Linked DNA regions of Homo sapiens: regions 1 and 3 are each reported to be linked to region 2. Evidence: microRNA targets listed by miRTarBase, many of them from high-throughput screens and not tested one by one. Region 2 holds a microRNA gene; each other region holds the end of a gene's coding sequence.
What was found. The annotated mature microRNA hsa-miR-744-5p reads UGCGGGGCUAGGGCUAACAGCA and lies in region 2 at 2,759-2,780, shown strand. An mRNA with a match to its seed (bases 2 to 7 or 8) in the 3' UTR can be bound and repressed. Matches are read on the target gene's strand: a 7mer-m8 pairs with bases 2 to 8, a 7mer-A1 pairs with bases 2 to 7 and ends in A, and an 8mer does both.

Region 1 (7,166 bases), not on the chromosome of region 2:
GGGGAGGGTGGTTCCCAAAGGAGATACCATCCCTGGTAAGGGGACATGGGCCCCTGGGAGTTGGGTTGGGCCACAAGGAGAGAGGCCTGAACGGCCAAAGGGAGGGGGCGTGGGGGAAGCCGCAGCATCAGACCTCTGCCTCCTCCCTCAGATCGTGAGGCTCCCCAGCCTGGCTCGGGAGACCCCGAGATCCCCGGCCGGTGACAGCAGGCGACCCCCTGCTCCTGTCAACCTGTGGGTCCCTACGGACGTGGGGAAGGGAGGAGGGAGGCCCCAGCTCCCTGCGGGGGAGGGGCGTGAAGACGCGCGGGGGTGGGGGGAGATGAGCCGGCGTCGCCATGACAACGAGGCCGGTGGTCCGGCCTTGGGGACCCGGGAGGGAGGGAGGCGCCGTGGCCGCGCGCGCGGGCGGGGGCGGGGGGCCAGGTCTCCCAGGAGTAGTTGGGGAACACCCGGCGATTCTGGCGGCTGCTTCCTGGTGGCGCAGGGAGCCCGCGTGTTTGCGAGTGCGTGTGTGTGCGAAGTTCTCCGGGTAAGTGTGCCAGCGCGCGCCTGGGTGTGTGCAAGGGTGTGAGCGTGCACACGTGGGCACGGGCGTGTGCGCGCGGGGGTGCCCGGTTGGATGTGTGCACACGAGTGTGTGCCGGTCCGCGTGCCCCTGCGTGAGTGTGCGCGCGCGAGCACACGTGTGTGTGCGCGCTCGCGTGCGCTCCCGAGCGGGCCCCGGGTGGGAGTCCGAGATCCCGCCCCCTCCCCAGCCCCAGCGCCCCTCCCCGTCCCCCGCCGCCGCGCCGGCTGCATCCTCGCCTCCACCTCGCTCACCCCCTCCTCCCCGCACTTTCTCGGCGCTCCCTCCCTCTCGGCTCGCACAGCTCGACTCCGCGCTCTCCTCGCCGGCCGCCGCCGCCCAGCCTGCGCCCGCCGTCCCCCCAGTGCCTGGGCACCTGTTGGAGGCAGAGGCAGGTGCAGGGGGCTGGGCAGGCCGGGGGCGTGAGGGTGCGGGGAAGCGTGCCAGCCTGTGTGCGCTACGGGGGTGTTCGGCTCTCCTGCGGCTGCAATTTCTGGCTCCCCTGAGGAGCCAGAGGTGGCATCTGAGGCTGGGGTCTCCACCGTGGGCTGTGGTGAGCGAGCGGGGGAACCAGGCAGGCAGACAGGTCCTGGGGCTGAATGAGGGGACAGTGGGCAGTTGGAGCCTAGAGGGGTGGGTGACACCCTGACTAGACCAGCGCCTGGTGCAGAGGAGGACAGAGCCTCCGAGAAACAGAGGCGGGGCCCTGCAGGGCCCCTTGGGGGACAGGCAGGCTCAGGAGCAGAGGGGAGCCCCGGAGGAGAGGAAGGAGCTGGCAAGATGATACAGGGACAACCTAGAAGTGGGTGGGTGAGGACGGGGTGGTGCAACCTCGACTTCTGCAAGGAGTGGGTTGGCAGCCCAGCCCCTGTGGAGTCAGCTTGGGGTCTGCAGGGCCCAGGCCTCCCACCTGCCACCGGCTGGCACACACCACCCTCTCCCTCGACACCTAGGAAGGGAGGCCAGTGAGGGCCCCACAGACCGAGGAGGCCGTCGCCTGGCCCTCAGCCAGGATGGCTAGGTATGATGGGCTCACTGGCTCACACGCCCTCTCCTAGCCAGGGGTGCTGCATGAGGGGCCGCAGGGGCGATCGCATGACCATCAACATCCAGGAGCACATGGCCATCAACGTGTGCCCCGGGCCCATCCGGCCCATCCGCCAGATCTCTGACTACTTCCCCCGGGGACCAGGACCTGAAGGGGGCGGCGGGGGCGGCGGGGAGGCCCCCGCCCATCTGGTCCCCCTGGCTCTGGCCCCCCCTGCAGCCCTCCTTGGGGCCACCACGCCTGAGGATGGTGCGGAGGTGGACAGCTATGACTCGGATGATGCCAGTGAGTCTGGGGGCTTGGAGGCCCCATGTGCTGGTGGGGGTCTCCAGGCTTGCCGTGGTGGGGGGAGAGGGGGATGGGCCCTGCTGGCTGTGCATGTAGGTAGGGGAGGAGGGCAGTGGGGGGGTGGCAGGGACGGCCACCACAGCTGCAGTCAGCGTGGAGATTACAGCTTCAGCAAGGCTCAATATTCAGTATTTCTGCTGAGACACTCCACCACCCACACAGCCCCAGTTGCGGCCGAGCCAGGGACCCAGACGCACACACGCATGGGCCCACTCAGCCTCTTGCACTCACACTCGCGGGCTGGCAAGAGAGAGAGACACACAGAGCCAGTGCCCACCTGCTGGCCTCTCGCACACACCTGTCTCCATACCGACCCATGCTGCCTTTCCTCTCTCTCCAGCCGCCCTAGGCACGCTGGAGTTTGACCTTCTCTACGACCGGGCCTCCTGCACTCTGCACTGTAGCATCCTCAGGGCCAAGGTGGGCACTCCCTGCCACCCAAGCCCGGGCCCGGTTTGCGTGCAGCCCCCAGAGGGGGCCCATTCCTCCTTCCCTTCCCAGGCCTGCTCCTTCGTCCTGCCCTTGCCCCCTCCTTCTGGGCTCCTCCAGGGTCCAGCTCTACAAGAGGGATGGAGAGAGGTGCCGGGAGCCTCTAGCCCTCTCCCCTGCCCTCCTCTCCAGGGCCTCAAGCCCATGGATTTCAATGGCCTCGCCGACCCCTACGTCAAGCTGCACTTGCTGCCTGGAGCCTGTAAGGTAACAGCCTCCTCTCGCCCCGCCCGGCCCAGCCCATGACTCCAGCCTGTGGGGCTGGAGGACAGGTATTGAGAACCTTTCATCCCCACATCCCAGGCCAATAAGCTAAAAACGAAGACTCAGAGGAACACACTGAATCCCGTGTGGAATGAGGACCTGACTTACAGCGGGATCACAGATGACGACATCACGCACAAGGTGCTCAGGTGAGGGCCCCCCTCCCCACCACCCAGCAGCAGCTCGGGGACAGCTGACATTGTAACCGCTGGTTGGTTGATCTATGTCCCATTAAGCCCGTACCTCTCTGATGCTCAAGAACCATCAGCGGCTCCCTAGCCCCTTTGGCAGCAGGCCAAAATTCTTCCCTGCCATTCCTGCCCCTCAATATCTCCTGCCTGCCAGGTGTGGTGGCTCACACCTGTAATCCCAGCACTTTGGGAGGCCGAGGTGGGCGGATCACTTGAGGTCAGGAGTTCAAGACCAGCCTGGCCAACTTGGTGAAACCCCCGTCTCTACTAAAAATACAAAAATTAGCCGGGCGTGGTGGCATGTACCTGTAAATCCCAGCTACTCGAGAGGCTGAGGCAGGAGGATCACTTGAACCCGGGAGGCAGAGGTTGCAGTGAGCCGAGATCGCACCACTGCACTCCAGCCTGGGTGATGGAGACTCCATCTCAAAAACAAAACAAAAGTATCTTCTGCCCCTCAAACAGAGGACTCCCTTCTTCCAACTGGCCAGTTCCACAACTCCTGAACTTTTCCTGTTGTTTTCTATCTGGAAAGCTCCTTCCTGCCAGCCTAAATTCCGCTCATCTGAGGTTCAGTCCAAGCTCTGCCCCCTCCCAAAAACGTTCCTGGGTTGCCGAGACCCCTTCTCAGAGCCCTTGGCTTAAGCCAGACCTCTGCAGCTTTGGTCTGCCCCTTCCGTGCCTTGAGTTCCCCTAAAATCTCTTAAGGAGTGAAGTCTTCAGGGACAGGGAACTTGCTCCGTCATCCTAGGAGATGGAGATGTAGGGAGAGTACTCCCTCAAGTCAGGTGGCGGGCAGCGAAACCCAGGCTCTGGAGAGACCTCTGCCTTTGTGCTTGGATTTGCAGCTGGGACCTTCCCTGATGGTCAGGGCTGTGCAGCAGAGAGGCCACCTTGGTTTCAGCTATTCGGGTGGAATGGAGGGGAGGCCAGAGGCCAAAACCAGAATGAGACCAAAAAATGAGCGCTCACCAGGGCCCAGCCCAGGCTTAGCATTTTCACATTTCTTTCTTTCCCTTGACTATCTCCATTTACAGATGGGAATTGAGGCATAGGGTGATCAAGTGACTTGCCCAAGGTCACACAGGTGGCTCAGAAGTGGCAGGGCTGGGATCTGCCCATCCTCCATGCCACAGATGCCCAGCCTGGTAGTGGGTCACTGCGGAGGCAGGGCAGGGACTGCAGGAGGACAGGTGGCTGGAAAGCAATCATTTCTTAGTGAGTCCCTGCGGGGCTGGCTCTCTGCTGCATGCAGGAAAAGGACGGGGGTTCCCGAGGAGGCGTGGGGTACTGGTCTGGCTGCCCAAGGCTCCAAGGCCCTTCTAGCTCTCACGGCCTGTGTCTATGGCCACATCCACCGTGGTGTTCGGCTCCTGCCCCCAGGCCCTGAATGGAGGCAGTGAGCAGCGTGCTCCAAGATTTCTGAGGGCTTCCCACAATGGCTGAGCATGTCCTGATGGACCAGGGACAGCCGGGTGGCTGCAGAGGGAGGGACAGAGGAATGGGCAAATCTGCTTGTCCTTCTCAAGTGCCAGCCTGTCTTCCAGATGAGACGTAGTGTTTAGGGCAGAGCTGGGCTGGTCCAAGGCCCTTCCTACACCCCGGAACGGGGCTCAGGTACCCCAGGGGCCCTGACACTGCAGTTCCCGACCAGGATCGCCGTCTGTGATGAGGACAAGCTGAGTCACAATGAGTTTATTGGGGAGATCCGCGTGCCCCTCCGCCGCCTCAAGCCTTCGCAGAAGAAGCATTTTAACATCTGCCTCGAGCGCCAGGTCCCGGTCTGTGTGGGGGCTGCAGGGGCGCCAGGGGAGGGGGCCCTGGGGAGGCCAGGCTTCCAGAACCTTCTCTTTGCCCCCTCAGCTGGCGTCCCCCTCTTCCATGTCAGCGGCGCTGAGGGGCATCTCCTGTTATCTGAAGGAGGTGAGGCACCTCATGGGGATGGGGATGCATGTGGGTGGGAGGCTGCAGGGGCCCAGGCTGACCCTGAGTCTGTGCCCCGCAGTTGGAGCAGGCGGAGCAGGGGCAGGGGCTGCTGGAGGAGCGTGGCCGCATCCTGCTGAGTCTCAGCTACAGCTCGCGGCGCCGGGGACTGCTGGTAGGCATCTTGCGCTGCGCCCATCTGGCTGCCATGGACGTCAACGGTTACTCGGACCCCTACGTCAAGACGTGAGCCCTTGCTCTGACCCTCTCCTCCCCAGGGAGCCTGCCCTGGCCTGAGTTGGGCCTGGCCTGTCCCTCACCCCTCAGTTCGTCTCCCTCCACCCCACCCCCAGGTACCTGAGGCCCGATGTGGACAAGAAATCCAAGCATAAGACGTGTGTGAAGAAGAAGACTCTCAACCCAGAATTTAACGAGGTACCCAGGAGGGGACGGGACATGGAGGGAGGCCAGGGAGGGGCTGGGGAGCTGGCTCACGAACGGGTGGCCGGCCTTGTCCCTAGGAGTTTTTCTACGAGATAGAGCTCTCCACTCTGGCCACCAAGACCCTGGAAGTCACCGTCTGGGACTATGACATTGGCAAATCCAATGACTTCATTGGTGAGGGAGGAGCTGGCTGCGGGTGTTGAGGGCGGGCAAGTGGCAGGGAGGTGGCCCTGACCCTGCCCACCTGCTCCCCAGGTGGCGTGTCCCTGGGGCCAGGTGCCCGAGGCGAGGCTCGGAAGCACTGGAGTGACTGCCTGCAGCAGCCGGACGCAGCCCTGGAGCGCTGGCACACCCTGACCAGTGAGCTGCCCCCTGCGGCCGGGGCTCTGTCCTCAGCCTGAGTGGACAGCAGTGTCCCGGCACAGGCCCATCGAGCCGGGTCCAGTACCCAACCTTCGCACGAGTGTGTTGCACGTTTACACAGGGTGGGCTGCCCCCACCCTGCACTACCTATTTTTGTGAGTCTCCGTGACCCGGGTCTGTCTGCTCATGAGGGGCTGCGGAGTTCTATATTCACATATGCAAACCTCCTGCCTGACTCGCTAGTCCCTGCAAATATGCAAACCCCCCATCATCTGCACACCCGGGCAGTGCTCAGAGCCCGGCCCCAGGCCCCCGCGCTCCTCACTCCTGCCTCTCCACGCTGCCCCGTCCCTCTCCCCCAACAGGGAGGAGGTCGGATTAGGGGAGGTTCAGAGGAGGAGAATGTCTCAAAAAAAAAGGACAAAAAACAAACCCAGAGCCACTCCTTTAATACAGAAACTTCATTGAAAAAACCTAGCCCTGTACAGCTGCCCTTTTAAAGAGGTGGCCATTGCAGGGTCTCTGCCTCCCCAGCAGGTGGCAGATGCTCCCGGCCACTCGTTTAAATAACTGTCCCCTGGAGGGGGCCGGGGTTTGAAGGCAGGGCCCCTGCCACCCTCCTGGGGGACACCCGTGCATGTTTACGCCTTTTCTGGTTGTGTCAGTGGCCGGAGCATGGCAGCTGGGCATCAATAAACACCTCCGAGGAAGCTGGACTCGTGTGTGCTGGCACGGGGAGGGCGCCGGGCGGGGCCGTGGTGGGCATGGCGTGATGTCACGGTCACTCCGGGATGTCGATCACCAGGTCATCGTCTCCATCCAAGGCATCGTCCCCGCTACCTGCATCGCTGAACATCTGCCGAGGGACCGTGCTCAGGATCGTGGGGGGGGGCATCTTAGGGGGTGGGAGGGGGGTCAGGGTTGTCCCGACCCCAGCCCCAGAACCCCGGCCAGGGAAGGTCAGCGGCCCTCCCACAGGGCAGTCGGGGGGTCCCACCGCCATCTGCAGCAGGGGGAAGAAACACAGGGGGACTAGTCAGGGAGGCACTGGGGCCTCAGGAGACTAGGCTTTGCCCCCCAGGGCAGCTCTGGGGAGGGGGAAGAGGCCCTGGGCACAGCTGGGCCAACCCATGCTGCACTCAGGGCCTGCCCCCCTCAGCCCCTCGAGAGCCTCAAACCAGCAAGTGCCTGGGGGTGGTGATAGAGGTGAGATGAGGGGATGGGGGTGTCTCACAGGAAACCGGGAGGGAAAGGCCCGGGCACCTGCCCTCTCCAGGGAGGCGCCTGGGCTGCCCTGAGACAGGGGTTAAGCCAGAGGCGGAGTCGGCCTGGAGTGCTTGCCTGCCTGCCGGCCCCGGAGGTGCCACCTGCCACCAGCTTCCTCTCCCTACTCCTCCTCTCCCTCTTCTGCGGCACTCACTGGTTCGGTGGAGGGTATTGCAGGCTGCCTGAGCCAGGAGCCCCAGCGGCTTATCTGCCCCCAAGAAGCTTGTATTATGTCTTGGATGGGCCCCTCCTCGGGGTCCCG
Region 2 (7,194 bases):
TATTTACAGAATTGTGCATCTGACACCTTATTCAGTTTTTGGATATTAGCCCAAGTAGGTACCCTGTATCACTTCGCTTTCAACTTATTCAGTTTTAAAAAGAAACTACAGTGAGCTAAACTATTAGTAGAGATATTCCATAATACTAAAATTTGATCTTTAAAATAAGACATAATATTGTAACTGTTTTCATTCTGTAATTTCTATATAGTAATGAAATATCTTTCATTTCAGTTCTCAAGAATGCTAGCATAAGTATTATATAGCAATGTAGTCATGAGAGTCATATTATATCATCTTTACCATATTCTCTTGGTTAGAGGTAAGTCACAGGTCCCACTCACACCCAAAGAAATATGCCTACACAAAAATACGAACACTAAGAAGGTGGGGATCATGAGGACTTCCTGGAGCCTGTCTGCCACAGCCCTTCAATTAGCGAACACTGTAAAAAATTTTGCTTCTGATTTACAAGTAATTTTAATTAACTTTTTTTCAGCTTCCCTCAGTGGTAGATTGGTGCTGTATATTTCACCAGTGATTTTGCCATTGAGATAGTATTTACTTGCCAAAGATTATAGAACAATAATCATTATACATGGAACTTCTTCATGTTAGAACTTTTTTCAGGCTTAATCTGTCTACTTCATGAAAAAGATTACCAAGAAGAGTTTCCTATTTTTGCCTAGACCTGATTTCCATCTTAAAAGATCAGTTCCAGCTTCATCTTCACCTAAATGGTCACTTATGCCACTGATTTCCGGGCTTCTTGTGATTCTGGATGCTAGAGTATCAAATAATATGGGTGAAAGGACTTTGAACTGAAAAGCACTTGTATGAATGAAAGCTTATCACTTAGTATGATTTGAAAGTCTGTTATTTGGAACACTGATTTAGTAAATTGTTATTTAGACCAAGTGTATGAATCTTTGAAGTGTAACTTTGAACCTTAATATTAGTACATACGATTATTCTCAGAGTGGGGGTAGATTTTAAAGTTCTAAGTTTTTTGGGAACCTTAAAGGTTGCTACAGAAAACCATTCTACTAATTGGAGAAAACTTTCCTAAATTTTGGAAGAAGAAAAATAATGACCAAGCACATAAACTTTGCTTGTTTGCATCATAGGATCAGAGTTTAAAAGAGATCCTGATCATTTAGTATGAAACTGAAAAATGTAGTTGATATTTAATGAATTCTTTCATTGTGTGTATGGTTGATAGTTTGTTCCTACACATTGGGGTTTGGTGTGTGTGTGAGAGAGAGCAAGAGAGAGAAACAGATTGATTTTACATTTTTCATTGGATTTACTTTTTTACAAAGCATGGTTAGAAGTTATTAATACTTTGATCTCCAGGTTGAGATTTTGGAGATGATTTTTTATTTAATGGAAATATGTAATGAGTGAGCTCTTTTGTCTACGAGCCACTCATTTTTTATCCCATTGCTTTATCGAACGAGGGCTGAAAATTTCAATTTTGAATAGCACATGGCAATTTTCCTCTTAGAGCCAGCTAGCTATTCAGTTAACTGTTCTCCCACCTCAGGATGGTATTAACAAGAACAGGACAGTATACTAAGGCACTAGTTCCCAAACATTACTGGAATCATCTGGGGGTCTTTAAAAATACTGTTTTCTGACTCCTGTCCCTGGATAATTCAGATGTAATTGCTATGGGACGATACCTGGGCATTGAGATTTTTAAAATCTCCCCCAGGTGATTGTAAGGTACAGCAAACCTTGGGAATAGTTGTACTAACTGAAGATTGAGGCACTGGAATAACTAATGTTGGGTAAGATAGGGTAAGAACTTTTTCGCAATAAGGTTTGCAGCTCTTGGGATTCTCACTTGATAATGCTGTTTGGATAAACCATCATCCAAGTTTGAATAAGATCTTATATTTAGAAATGAAAACTGATCTGCAGAATTAGTTTAATCAATAAATGGGAATTTTTAAAAATCTTCTTGGCAATTTGTTTTTATGAATCCCGTTGAAGCTGTGTCTATTGACTACCTAAATCTAGATCATTCTTAATCCAGTGTGTAAAAAACCAGGATGACACAAATGAAAAACTTCAAAAACCTGGAGGTCAGACTATTTTAGTAATTTAGAAAACATTTTTCCCACACATTAATCAGTACTAAAAGAAAAAAGTTAAAACCTATTTAAAATGTGGAAAAATTGCTTCCCAATATTTTAACAGAGAGAGACTGAGAACACACAGCATTGAGTCATCAGGAAAACTGAAGATCTCCCCTGAACAACACTGGGATTTCACTGCAGAGGACTTGAAAGACCTTGGAGAAATTGGACGAGGAGCTTATGGTTCTGTCAACAAAATGGTCCACAAACCAAGTGGGCAAATAATGGCAGTTAAAGTAGGTGATGCCATGATTATTTTTGGTACTTTAATCCATTAGGTGAAATTTCATGGTGCAGTAATACCACTGTTGTTGTGTTCCTACTTTTGTGGTAAATGTGGGTGTTTAAAAAATTGTTTCTCCAACTCCTTTGAGGGTGTTCTGTGTAGAGGTTTCTTATTGGTGGCACATTTTCTATCTCTTTGGAAACATGAGTGTATGAAGTGTGCATGTTGATTGCATTTTTGGCATGATGCATTAACATGTTTTAAACTTCAGGCCCTTCTACTGCCAAGGTGAGTTCAGGCTGGGCGGCTGCACCCCTGGGAGCAGGGCAGTGCTGCACTGAGCCAGGCGGGAGCTGGAAGAAGACGCAGCACACTGGGTTGGGCAAGGTGCGGGGCTAGGGCTAACAGCAGTCTTACTGAAGGTTTCCTGGAAACCACGCACATGCTGTTGCCACTAACCTCAACCTTACTCGGTCCTGACCGGCTCGGCTTCTGTTTGTTTATTTCATCTCTACTCAGTACTGCCCTGTTCCCTGGTTTTAAAGTTGTACTGAAATGCATACCTTGTGATAATGTTGTCACATTTTGTCCTTATTGTGTCGTGCCACTTAATATGTTCATTAAAAAAAAAAAATGGCCAGAAACAGAGATTTGATCCATAGACAATACCTGGCAAGCTTATGCTGGTACCTGTAAAGAACTGGTGGTTTCCATCTGACTCCTAGTTTCATGTAATTGTAATTTATTCATTTGTTTGTTTAGATGTTTAACAAATCTTTGCTGTATGTAAGATATTTCAGGAAAATCAGCAACAGGGGGAACAACTTGCAAAAACAAAGGAAAAAAAGCTAGCTGTGGCCATACCCTCTCTGAGCTTAAAATTCCTATGGGAACAAAAATGTTTCAGTTTACAAGAATTCAGAATGGATTTGCATATAGTCCAAGCTAATCATCTTCCTATTAGTGTCCTATTTTGAGAGTTTGTCAGAGTGGTTGATAAGAGTCCTTAGTTTTTTCTTGACATTTGAGAATGAATTTAAATTAAAATAAAATGCTTTCTGTGTAGAAGTCTGTTGTGAGCCAAACCTTACTGTAACTATTTTAGTATCCTTCACTGTTGAGCATTTCTTTTTGCTGGGTCATATGAAAGTAATGTTAAATTAGTGGTAGGGAAAATTTTTATGATTCTCTCTATGGGTTCCTAACATTGTTTTTGGCTGTATTTTTAAAATGTGGTGAGAACTATAGACTTTTCATAGGCAGGTGTATATACACAACATTTTGTATACAAACCGTAGACCTCTAAAGATGCACAGGTGAAGAACTCTGCATTATGTGTTAAAATAAAATGTTTTATTGGAATGTGAAATGATTTCTGTATTCCTATTTTGTGCCACTGCAGTGTAAGTGGAAAGAGTCATTTTATTTAGACTCCTGGATGAATGTTGTGTTGTCCCTTTGTGCTACCTGTGTGTGACATCCAGTTTTAGTTGGCTGGATCTTAAGGGAAAGGTTTCCTATATAGTTAAAGTTGTAAACTTTTCTTTCAGGTACTAGGGAAAGTAATTTTAAAAAATTATTTCCTGCTTTTTACAGTTTGTGTTATGTGTGCTTCAACTTTGTTGATGAACATTATTAAACATTTTAGTAATATGGATTGATTTTAGCCATTGTTAAAAAGGTCATAAAGGTAAAGAGGGTACTTCCTTTTGACACTTAAAAGTTTTTCTCACTGATTAATTTGATAATATTTTGGGTTGTATAATGCTTACTCAAGTTTTGTAGGAATTCAAGAATGAAAATAGGAAATTGTTGTCCATCATTTGTAATGTTACATTATCAGTGGCTACTGGCTACTGTGACAGTTCCAGTTGGGATGCTATTAAAAATCCCAGCTGTACTTGAAGAACTTTCAAGGCAGTCATGAGACCTACAAACTGGTTGCTGTCACATGTATACCCACCACATGGTACTACCTAGCTTCGTTTACCATCTCGAATTCTTGAACAAGCATAGCAGTTGGGGATGGGAGAGGATGGCAGTACAACACATCAATTAACATATAGTTGAGGAGTACCTTTGGATTCCATGACTTCATTAATACTGGAAGAATAAGTGTTTTTGCATTAATATGCATTAAAATTTGATACCAATTGATGACAGATGTATGCCATCTCTGAATTAAAGAATGCATTTATTATTGGTTTCTTCAAAGAAGAATAGTCTTTCATCACACTTGAGAGAGTTCATTCATTCCTCATTTAGGTACATTGACTGGATTGACAGGCACAAATATACAGAATCAATGTATGATTAAGGAGGTGTTTGATTTGAGACTTTACGGTTTTAAAGGAACCATGAGACGGTGGTTCACACAGCTGAGAGCTTTCCATTGCTGTTGGTGAAATGAGAAACACGCTTGAAGTAACTCTGTGCTAACATCTTAATACACACTTTGAGAATAAAGAAGGATTGCATTATTAGATGTTAAGCTGGAAATGATCCTTAAGATTTACTTGCAATATCTGTAGAAAAGTGAACTGTGATATTAGCTTGATTTTTTTCTTTGTATTATTCCTCATTTTTAGTTCTGAGGAATTCCTTCCCCAAATTTATTTTGCCATATATAAGAAATATTTGAAAAAGGTGACTTCTTAGTAACCAGAGTTAATTACCCCAAAGACTTAATCTAAAAATCAGTTTTGATATAATCAGATTTAGTGAGGTAACATTGTAAGAGTTATACTTAAAACAATTTTTTGATGTTTGGTTTGAGGACAGTCTCCCAAGCTATCGGTGAGTTTCTGCATTAGGACCTAAGATGTGAACATGGTTTACCCTTTAGTTTTAATTGCACGTGCTTGGGAAAAGGGTCTTGCTCTCCTGTGAGTGGGAGTAATTTGTATACTTGTGCCTGAATGACTAGTCTTAGGGCTGCCTAGGGCAAAGCCAGTGTTGCCTCTGGGGTTTCTTAAAGCTCAGGGAGAACAACCTTCAACTCTTACCAGGGATTTACTTCTAACTGTGATCAGTATCCTTTACAAATAACATTTATTTAGTGTCCTGTTTTGCACGGTGGTGGGGTAACCACTGAATGAAAACATTAGACATGAACAGTCACTGTCCTCTACATAAAGTAGGTGCCTGCTCAGCTCTCTGGCAGGTGGAAATGGGAGAGGATGGCAATACAACACATCAATTAACATATAGATGAGGAGTACCTCATCTATATGTTAACCAGCTCTCTGGTTAAATGTAGCGGGGTAAAGCCCAGAGTTCAGACCAAATGTTTGAAGAGGCAGTTAGGATTAGGTTTCTGAGCTAGGGTAATTCAGATCTGGGAGAAACACCTAGCATCATCAGTCAGAATCAGGATGCCACAGAAAATCTAGGGACACAGGAGAAAAGAGAGTAAATGAAATGTCACAGCTTAGACCATGGGCTTACAAGCTCAGATGGCTGACAGAGGGAAGAATGACTGTAAGCCTCTGATGCCTGACAGTATATTCTCCACCTGACTCTGCCTGCAGTGTAAAAAATCCTGCATGCCTAGAGTACCAGCTTCCCTGTTGTTTTCTAGCAGACTCATGTCCAGATTGACTTCTTGAAGGTATGCATGCCCTTTTCATGTTTGTAGAATATGTGCGAAAAACCAAAGAAACGTGAAAAAGTAAGAATGAAAATGAGAGGGAGTATAAGGACTGAAGTACCTGTCACTAAAGATGATGGCAGGCAGTGGAATCTGAATTGTTGTGTGAAGGGTTAATACTGTAATAAAGCTGTCATCTCATTGAAGAACTGAATAATATTGAGCAGGTAGGTGGGAATAAGAATGTGTCATGTTAAATTTGTCATTGTGGATCATTATGATGACTTTTCAGTCTTCTGCTTGAGAAATTATCTGGGTTAATCAGGAAAAACAGATCTGTTGTTTGAGGGTAGGTGCATAGGCCGGACTGAGTTAGCAATGTGACCTGGTATGCAAGAGTTTCAAGTATTTTCTTTCTGTTGGAGATCTGCCTAACTTGTCTTGTTCTTTTGAACCTCAGCTCTACCCTTTCACCTCTACTGTTTCATTGATGTGAGTCTTGCTGATTCTGGCCTGTTAACCTGATTTTGATTCCTGCAATCCTGCCTCTCCTTGATTATTTGGATTTTGACTTTAGTGTCCTTGACCTGGAGTTGAGACCCAGCCTAATCCTGATGCTTGATAGTAAGGACTAGAGCCCTCTGCTGACAGTATCAGCAGCCCACAGCTCAGCTGTTCCCTGAGTAGAACGGAACTTTAATCTGCTGGTTGAGTAGGCCTCCCTGGTGTAGATAGTATGGTGAGTATGGGAAGTCAGGTATCAGAAAAGTATGGCTTGGCTTGTTTTCCTGCCACTGGAGAGACCATGCCACTTCTGTCAAAAGTTCCATTACCAAATTATTTCAGTGGGGATTATGATGATGAATAATGATTTGAGGAGGTTCATTTTAGTGTTTAAACATTGGTCTTGCATGTTCTGAAAGCACTAGAATGATACTGGGATGGCCTTCAATTGGAAAAGTTCCTTTTTGATGGCATAGAGTGCTTTGTTAGGCCATTTTATTCACTTCCAAAGGGCCGCAGTGATCATATTTGATTATCCAAATCACCTATGGGATGCAGATGTCATGGCTCTTTTGTTTAGAATTGAGACTGTAGTCTAATATCTTAGGCCGTCGTTCGGTCAGATCATGTGACTTACTTAAGGCATCTGTGATTGAGCTGTATTCTTTTATGCTTCCTAATATTGCTTAAAAGCTGTGGTGGTCATATGAAAAGTGTAAGTAGAGCATTTC
Region 3 (7,194 bases), not on the chromosome of region 2:
GCATGTGTGCTCCTTGGAATGCCTTTTCTCTGCTGGCTCACTGGGATGACTCACCGTCAACGGTGACCTTGAAAAGCATGTAAAGTCAAATACAGCCTGATATTAGAACTTTAGAGTGAATTATCCTTGCTCAGACTATAAACTCAGCCCAACTGAGGCATCAGTAATATTTAAATTAACATGCTTCCTCCAATATTTCATCACAGCTCCCCATGATTATACCTTCAAGCTCTCAATATAATGGAAACTCAGCCCCTCAGCTCCAGTGACACAAGCTGTTCCAAAATTTCTAGTGGATGGTTCTCTAGATATTGACACATCCTAACTTTCAGGTATAGACAAATGGTTAACTATGGAAAGCCTCATTAACTGCATGCATACTTGAGTCTAGGTCTTTAGGTAGCTTGATAAGGGTGATGAATGGGAATATATTTCTGATCCATCAGCTTAAAAATACTGTGAAGGATGGGGAAACTCTTGGCAGGATAATTGCCCCATTTCAGTGGTTGGGAGACAGTTCTGAGCCCAAGAGATATTTGGGGTATCTTTAGGGTAGAATTCCTCCTACACAGCTTATTCATGACCGTCTCACAAAAGTATACATGATCCAACCCCAACTTGAAACTAACCTTGCCTCATAGGTTTAAGGAAAGGCTGTTGAGTCTCCTGAAATTTTCACTGCAACGTTGCCTCTGTTTCTTTCAGACCATATAATGCCCATGGTTACATTGTCTGAAGCTTGTAGTTGTCTGCTATTTTCTTATGTATATTACAAATTGTACCAGCCAGTTGTGAGTCCCATTCTTTGGTGGGGGTTTACAGCAGATATATTGGTATTTGGTCTACTACCAGACTCTTTCCATATGGGAATTTTCTCTTTCCCACTTCATGTAATTCAGGTGGGGCTGTCAATCAAGGGACTGAGACCCACTCATAGTAGTGGTCACATGACCAAGAACAACCAATCGTGAGTCCGTTTAAAGGTTTCTATAGATGCTAGGAGAGAGTGCCTCTCCTGAGACTGTGAACCTGGGTTTTCTGGACTCTCTTTTCCATGAGCAAGCAGGGCTGAGAAACTGGCAAGGGAGGAACAAATTCCTAATGAAGGCTGTTGAGCAGCTGGATCCAGGTCTGCTTGAACCCAAAAGTTCCATAATCTTGGACTTGGTTGCTTTAGACAATATATCTTCTAAAATTTAATGCAATTAATCATGTATGAGTCAGATTTCTATAACTTACAACTAGGAGTTCTAATTAATGTCCTATGAACTTGTTTAGCTGTAGGATGTCAAGGGAGTCAGTATATTTTCTCACTGACCTTTTCCCTAAGGGTCTCACTGGGTGCATAGTTATGTACACTCATACACTTCCACTGCAGCCACCTGAATCTCTTTCTCATTCAATTCACTCTTAGAATCTACTGCTTTGCCTGTGGGTTGCAAGCTCAACGTAGAAAATGGACATACCACGTCACTCACTCCCATGGACCTTCTCTAAAAGACAGATTCCTGTAATCCCAGCACTTTGGGAGGCTGAGGCGGGTGGATCATGAGGTCAGGAGATCGAGACCGTCCTGGCTAACACGGTGTAATCCCGTCTCTACTAAAAATACAAAAAATTAGCTAGGTGTGGTGGTACACGCCTATTATCTCAGCTACTTGGGAGGCTGAGGCAGGAGAATCACTTGAACCTGGGAGGCAGAGGTTGCAGTGAGCCGAGATTGTGCCACTGCACTCCAGCCTGGGCAACAGAGTGAGACTCTGTCTCAAAAAAAAAAAAAAAAAGACAGATTGCTGTGTGAGTTCATGACCTTGAAGAACTCCCAGTAAGAGTAGTTTTTTGTTTTTTTTTTTTCCTAGGATTGCTATATTGAACCCAAATATTTAGGATTTCATTAAGAAAGCCTCTCTTCAGCTTAATCCTGTATCTTCTTATTTTGGAAGAGAACTAATAGGGGCCTTGAATTGTCTGCTTCATGAGTTTTTCTATTTTTAATTTTTTTTCTTTTTTGAGACGGAGTCTCGCTCTGTCACCCAGGCTAGAGTGCAGTGGCTCGATCTTGGCTCACTGCAAGCTCTGCCTCCCAGGTTCATGCCATTCTCCTGCCTCAGCCTCCCAAGTAGCTGGGACTACAGGTGCCCACCACCACGCCCGGCTAATTTTTCTTTTTTTTTGTATTTTTAGTAGAGATGGGGTTTCACCATGTTAGCCAGGAAGGTCTCAATCTCCTGGCCTCATGATCCGCCCACCTTGGCCTCCCAAAGTGCTGGGATTACAGGCGTGAGCCACCACACCCGGCCTATTTTTAATTTTTTGAGATTGGTGTCATTTCAAGGGTTCTAGTACTCCAAGCCATTAACACAACTGTTTCTTCTCTTCAGTGTCCTTAGCTTTACATCTATGAACCCAATGTGGAAGTGATCCTTTAGATTACTGACAAACCACAGCCCACAGGTCAAATCCCACCAGTAGCCTGTTTTTGTAAATAGTTTTCTTGGAACACAGCCACATCCATTCAATTTTGTATTGTCTATAGCTGCTTTTGCAGTTGCTACAGAAACCACACGGCCACAAGCCAAAAATATTTATTCTCTGGCCCTTTAGAGAAAGTTTATCAACCCCTGCTCTAGCTGAGTATTTTACAATCATTGCAAAGCACTAGCATCCATAAAAAATGCTCATCTTGGCATCCATAAAAATGGTATTCATGGCTGGGCGTGGCAGCTCACGCCTGTAATCCCAGCACTTTGGGAGGCCGAGGTGGGCGGATCACGAGGTCAGGAGGTCAAGACCATCTGGCTAACACGGTGAAATCCTGCCTCTACTAAAAATGCAAAAAAAAAAAAAAAAAAAAAAAATTAGCCGGGCATGGTGGTGGGTGCCTGTAGTCCCAGCTACTCGGGAAGCTGAGGCAGAAGAATGGCGTGAACCCGGGAGGCGGAGCTTGCAGTGAGCTGAGATCACGCCACTGCACTCCAGCCTGGGCGACAGAGCGAGACTTCATCTCAAAAAAAAGAAAAAAAAAGGTATTCATAAGGTACCTCGAGGGATGATGAAATGAGTAACTTGACAAATCTTTGGGGCTTGGGAAAGTCTACTCTACATCACTTGGGGCAGGGCATGACATAGCATATATTTGGGATACACATGCCTGACAGCCCAGTCTTCATTTGAGGAATCTGGGATCAATACATGATCCAAATCTTGGTACTGTGGGTCTTGCATTTGGATTTCCATGTGGATTTCATTTCGGCCAGGGCTGGAGTTACTGTCCCTGTTCATGATGGTGGTGCTGGTGACCTATGGGGCATCCTAACTTCCTTCCCAGGCAGATGTCCCTGCTGCATTGGCCAACATGTGGCTCCAAAACTAGACTTAAAAAAGCATAAAGATGTTCCCATCATTGATGGGGACAATCTGAGCCATTTGTGTTTTGAAACTAATTACTAGCCCACCTATCCAAGAGCTATAGTGTGCTCCTGAATATGTGGTCAGAATCTGTTACAGTTATCACAGCTACTTGTCCTTTTCCCTTGAACAATGCTGTAGCAAAGGCAGAAACACCCATCTTCCAATATGATTTCCCAGGGCCCATTACATTAACTGGTGTCCACAACTTTGCCTCTGTATTCCAATCATATCAGCTGCAGAATCCTGAAGCATCCATCACATTTTGAGGTCCCACCAACATATTCTTCCTTTTTCTCATTTTATTATGGCATAAATTCATTGCAAAAGCTATGACAGAAGTGACTGTCCACTGTTTATATTGCTATAAGGGAAATGAGTGGGTCAAGGACCATTTGCACAAACAGAAAGAATGAAACTGCAAATTTATTAGAAAGTATAAAAATTAAAAAACAAAACCAAGCCTAACCAAAACACAAAAAGCAACGACACACAACCTTTCCAGTTTACATTAACTTTGAGCGTCACACACTATTAACCACTTAGTTGCATTTTTTAAAAATGTCAATTTCAAGGTAGAGGGAGCTGAGTCAGGTAATAGGCCAGTCATCACAGTGTAACTAATTTAATGCTAAAATAAAACACGGATCTCATTTGAGAAAAAAAGAGATGAGACTATTTTCTGGTTGGCGTAGATTTAGGCAATGTATAAAAAAGCTTCCTGGTTGGAATGAGTTAAAAAATATTGCTGGCCACTAATGTGCCATCTTGAGTTGGAAAACAAACCCCCTCCCCCCCAAAAAAACCCTGCCGCTTTGGTGTCCTATTTATATATTTTTAAAAACATTCATTAAAAAAATCAAATCTATAATAAAAATGTCCCTGTTTGTTTTAAAAAAGCATTAGTAGGCATCCCTTATCTACTAAAACCATTTGTTTTTCCTAAGATGCCTGGAAGCAGAAAAGCGAGTGAGATTAACTCACTGCGCAATTAATTAAAATTAGAATTCTTTCCTCTAAACAACTTCCAGAGCACCAGAAAGAAGAAGGGGCCCCATCAAAGGGAGAAATAAAGCCCTTCTGACTCACAGGAGATGAAATGTTCAGCCAGAGTTCTAACACATTCTGGCTGTCATCAAAAGTTCTTTATTGGATTACTCAGAAAATAACTCAAGTGCTATTTTAAAAATGAAAGATACAGGCAGCTAGGTTCCTTTCCGTTTTTCTTTCTTTCTTTCTTTCTTTTTTTTTTTAAACAAAACAAAATACCAGTGGCTAGCTTTTCTGTAACATCCTTTGGATTTGGTTAAAAAAAGAAAGAAAAGTCTACAGAACAGGATCACTGAATGCCACTTTAGCCCCACTTCCTGCAGGCTCTGTTTTAATTAGCGTCAAACAGGTTACTGAACATTTCTTCAGCTGCGGAAAGAAGTTCTGAATGGGTGACAGCTGCCCGGAGTGGCTCTACCTGGTTCCATTTTACCCCTCATCAGTCAGTGTGGTTTCTTGCCAAACAACACCTAACGTTTTACCCCTTATTCCTGCAGGGAGGCGGGCCCTGTGGCTGACTGGACACAGAGAAAAAAAAGAAAAACTAGCACAAACATAGAGACTATACACGGAGGGAGAGAGGAGTCCCTCTTTCTGCTTCCTTCAAGAACTTGATAAATAATAACCTCAAAGTGCAACAATGCACAAATGTCTGGCACACAGGTTAGTCTGGAGTGACTTGTTATCACGGGGCTCAGCGGGGCAAGGGTGTGATCTCCTTTTGCATCTTTCTTTGGACCTTGTTAAAGGAAAAACAAAAAAAGAGACAGCTTTCCTATACACATATAAATAGTCCCTTAACTAGAAGGGAAAAAACAAACACACTGTTTCAAATGCATTTCTAAAAGATTTAAAATAGATCCAAATGGAAAATCTTGACTCCAAATTGTCTCTTGCCCATGTGTCTCAGAGGAGAAACTACTGGGATGTTGGGAGAGGCCTGACCCTGACCCTAACTCTAACTAGAGGTGCTGGTATTGGGACCTTGGGAAGAGGAGCGTGCACAGTGCAGGGAGCCAGGAGAGCTTGCTGGAGGTATTGAACATGGCTCTCACCTGTGATAGAAACCAGTGTCCTCAAGTCCAAATGCACAGGTAAAAAGGACTTTGCAAGTGTTAAGGGAACTTTGGAGGCCAGTGTTGAGGCTGCATGAATGAGCAAGACAGGCTGGGTGTGGGCCACAGGGACATACAGCCAGGTCAGACTTTGGGCCAACTCAAGTTAGGTCCTCATTCCTTGGCTACGGGCAGGTCAGCTGGGAGGGTGACAGTCCAGAAACCAGGTAAGTGGCTGTAGAGCCAGGGCAGGTGTAGGGTCTTGGCAGCCTGCATTTTAGGAGCTGAGAACTTGGATAAACTCATGGGAGGGGCTCCCTGCCTATTTTAGGATGAGGCTGATGATATATGCTGCTGAGGAAAGCTCTCAGAATGAGCATTCTTGGGCAAATTTCTAAAGCCAGAATTTATACAGGGTAGATGGTTTCAGAGTCCTTCACAAAACCAAAATAACGTTGCGACTGCTGAAGGGTGTTACTCACGTCCAAAGTTTTCTTTGGCCACTGACTCTGCTGAACTGGGGGCATCAAATAGGATTGTGCAAAGCAGGTTTTGATGCTCAAATGGAATTTTTTTGGGGGGGTGACCATCCAGTGATGGCCTCCTGGTTAGATCATCTAACCCAAATCCCCAAATGCTATAAGGTAACTACCCAGCAGAGAGAATTGGGTCCAGCGTCTCCTGCACTTCTGAGCATCCAATATAGCACAGAAACATTGCTCTCTCCCAGCCTATTTCAATACTGTTTTATATGCTGTCTCTCCAACAGAAACAGAATAATGTGAAAAATGAGGGTGTGATCTCGGGTCCCAAGGGAAGAGTGACCTGACAGAAAAGACGCACAACAGATCATGTCAACTGAGACGCCAGAAAAACATCTCTGAAGTCTGGGGGAGGAGGGGAATGCAGAGATAGTTAATATCCCAAACTGTAACTTGAGACACCCTTACAGGTGCTTAAAGAGCTTCCCATGAGCACAAATTGTTAGAATGGCAACAAGTCAGAGCAGATTAACCCATATGGACTTTGGAATAACTGGGACTTATACTTCTTCAGTGCCCTGGCTGGGCTCAGAGTCCCTGGGCTCAGCAGTGCCCTCCTGGGGGCCAGGCTGCCCCGGGCTGTGGCTGGTGTCTTCCACGCTCAGGAGGCTGCTGGCTGCCTGGGAGCTGGCACTGTTGGCACTCCCGGACCGGGAGCGGTAGGGGGGCAGGTCGGCTTGGTTCAGAGATTCCGTGTCAGAAGAGTAGGGCGGTGGAGGAAGGTCATACCACGCAGGCCTGTGATGGGGACAGCAGGGGGGCAGGGGCAATGGAGACAGGAAGAGAAGAGAACACATTAGGGCCAAGATAAGCCAACTTCAGCCCATTTCTGAGACAGTGTTTCCAGTGCGAAATGAGATTTTTCCCTCCAAGTACAAAGACAATTAATTCAAGGACCAGGAACCACATCGGAACAGAAAAGGCCAGTGTGTTCTGGCTGGTTGGTGTTGACCGGACGGTGCCAAAACCACATCCTCTGGGTAGAACCAGAATGAGGTCGCCCACCAAGTCCCTCGGCTCAACCTGGGTGGTTTGGCATTGCCACTCTGCTCCATCAGCCAAAAGCCCTGTGGCCAAGAGGCTGGGCTGGTATCTTGACTGGGCCTCTGATGGGAACATGGAATTGGCATTTCTATTGA

Region 1: miRTarBase lists INO80E as a target of hsa-miR-744-5p. Seed matches in the 3' UTR shown: 7mer-m8 at 6,386-6,392.
Region 3: miRTarBase lists LDLRAD3 as a target of hsa-miR-744-5p. Seed matches in the 3' UTR shown: 7mer-m8 at 5,156-5,162.

What each region holds. Positions count from the first base shown.
Region 1 is chr16:30,004,696-30,011,861 of GRCh38, reverse strand. INO80E (INO80 complex subunit E) reads right to left here. Exons shown (of 7, transcript NM_173618.3): 7 at 6,071-6,641. The coding sequence ends at 6,420. DOC2A (double C2 domain alpha) reads left to right here and starts at 835. Exons shown (of 11, transcript NM_003586.3): 1 at 835-959; 2 at 1,627-1,901; 3 at 2,305-2,384; 4 at 2,586-2,660; 5 at 2,757-2,866; 6 at 4,563-4,689; 7 at 4,772-4,831; 8 at 4,914-5,077; 9 at 5,185-5,266; 10 at 5,353-5,449; 11 at 5,531-6,348. The coding sequence starts at 1,640. The coding sequence ends at 5,676. RefSeq lists a silencer at 869-928.
Region 2 is chr17:12,079,151-12,086,344 of GRCh38, forward strand. It overlaps MIR744 (microRNA 744), which reads left to right and starts at 2,749; the gene lies at 2,749-2,846. It overlaps MAP2K4 (mitogen-activated protein kinase kinase 4), which reads left to right. Exons shown (of 11, transcript NM_003010.4): 3 at 2,206-2,380.
Region 3 is chr11:36,228,759-36,235,952 of GRCh38, reverse strand. It overlaps LDLRAD3 (low density lipoprotein receptor class A domain containing 3), which reads right to left. Exons shown (of 6, transcript NM_174902.4): 6 at 3,817-6,793. The coding sequence ends at 6,556. Among named protein-coding and RNA genes, the nearest start is that of COMMD9, 57 kb to the left of the region's middle.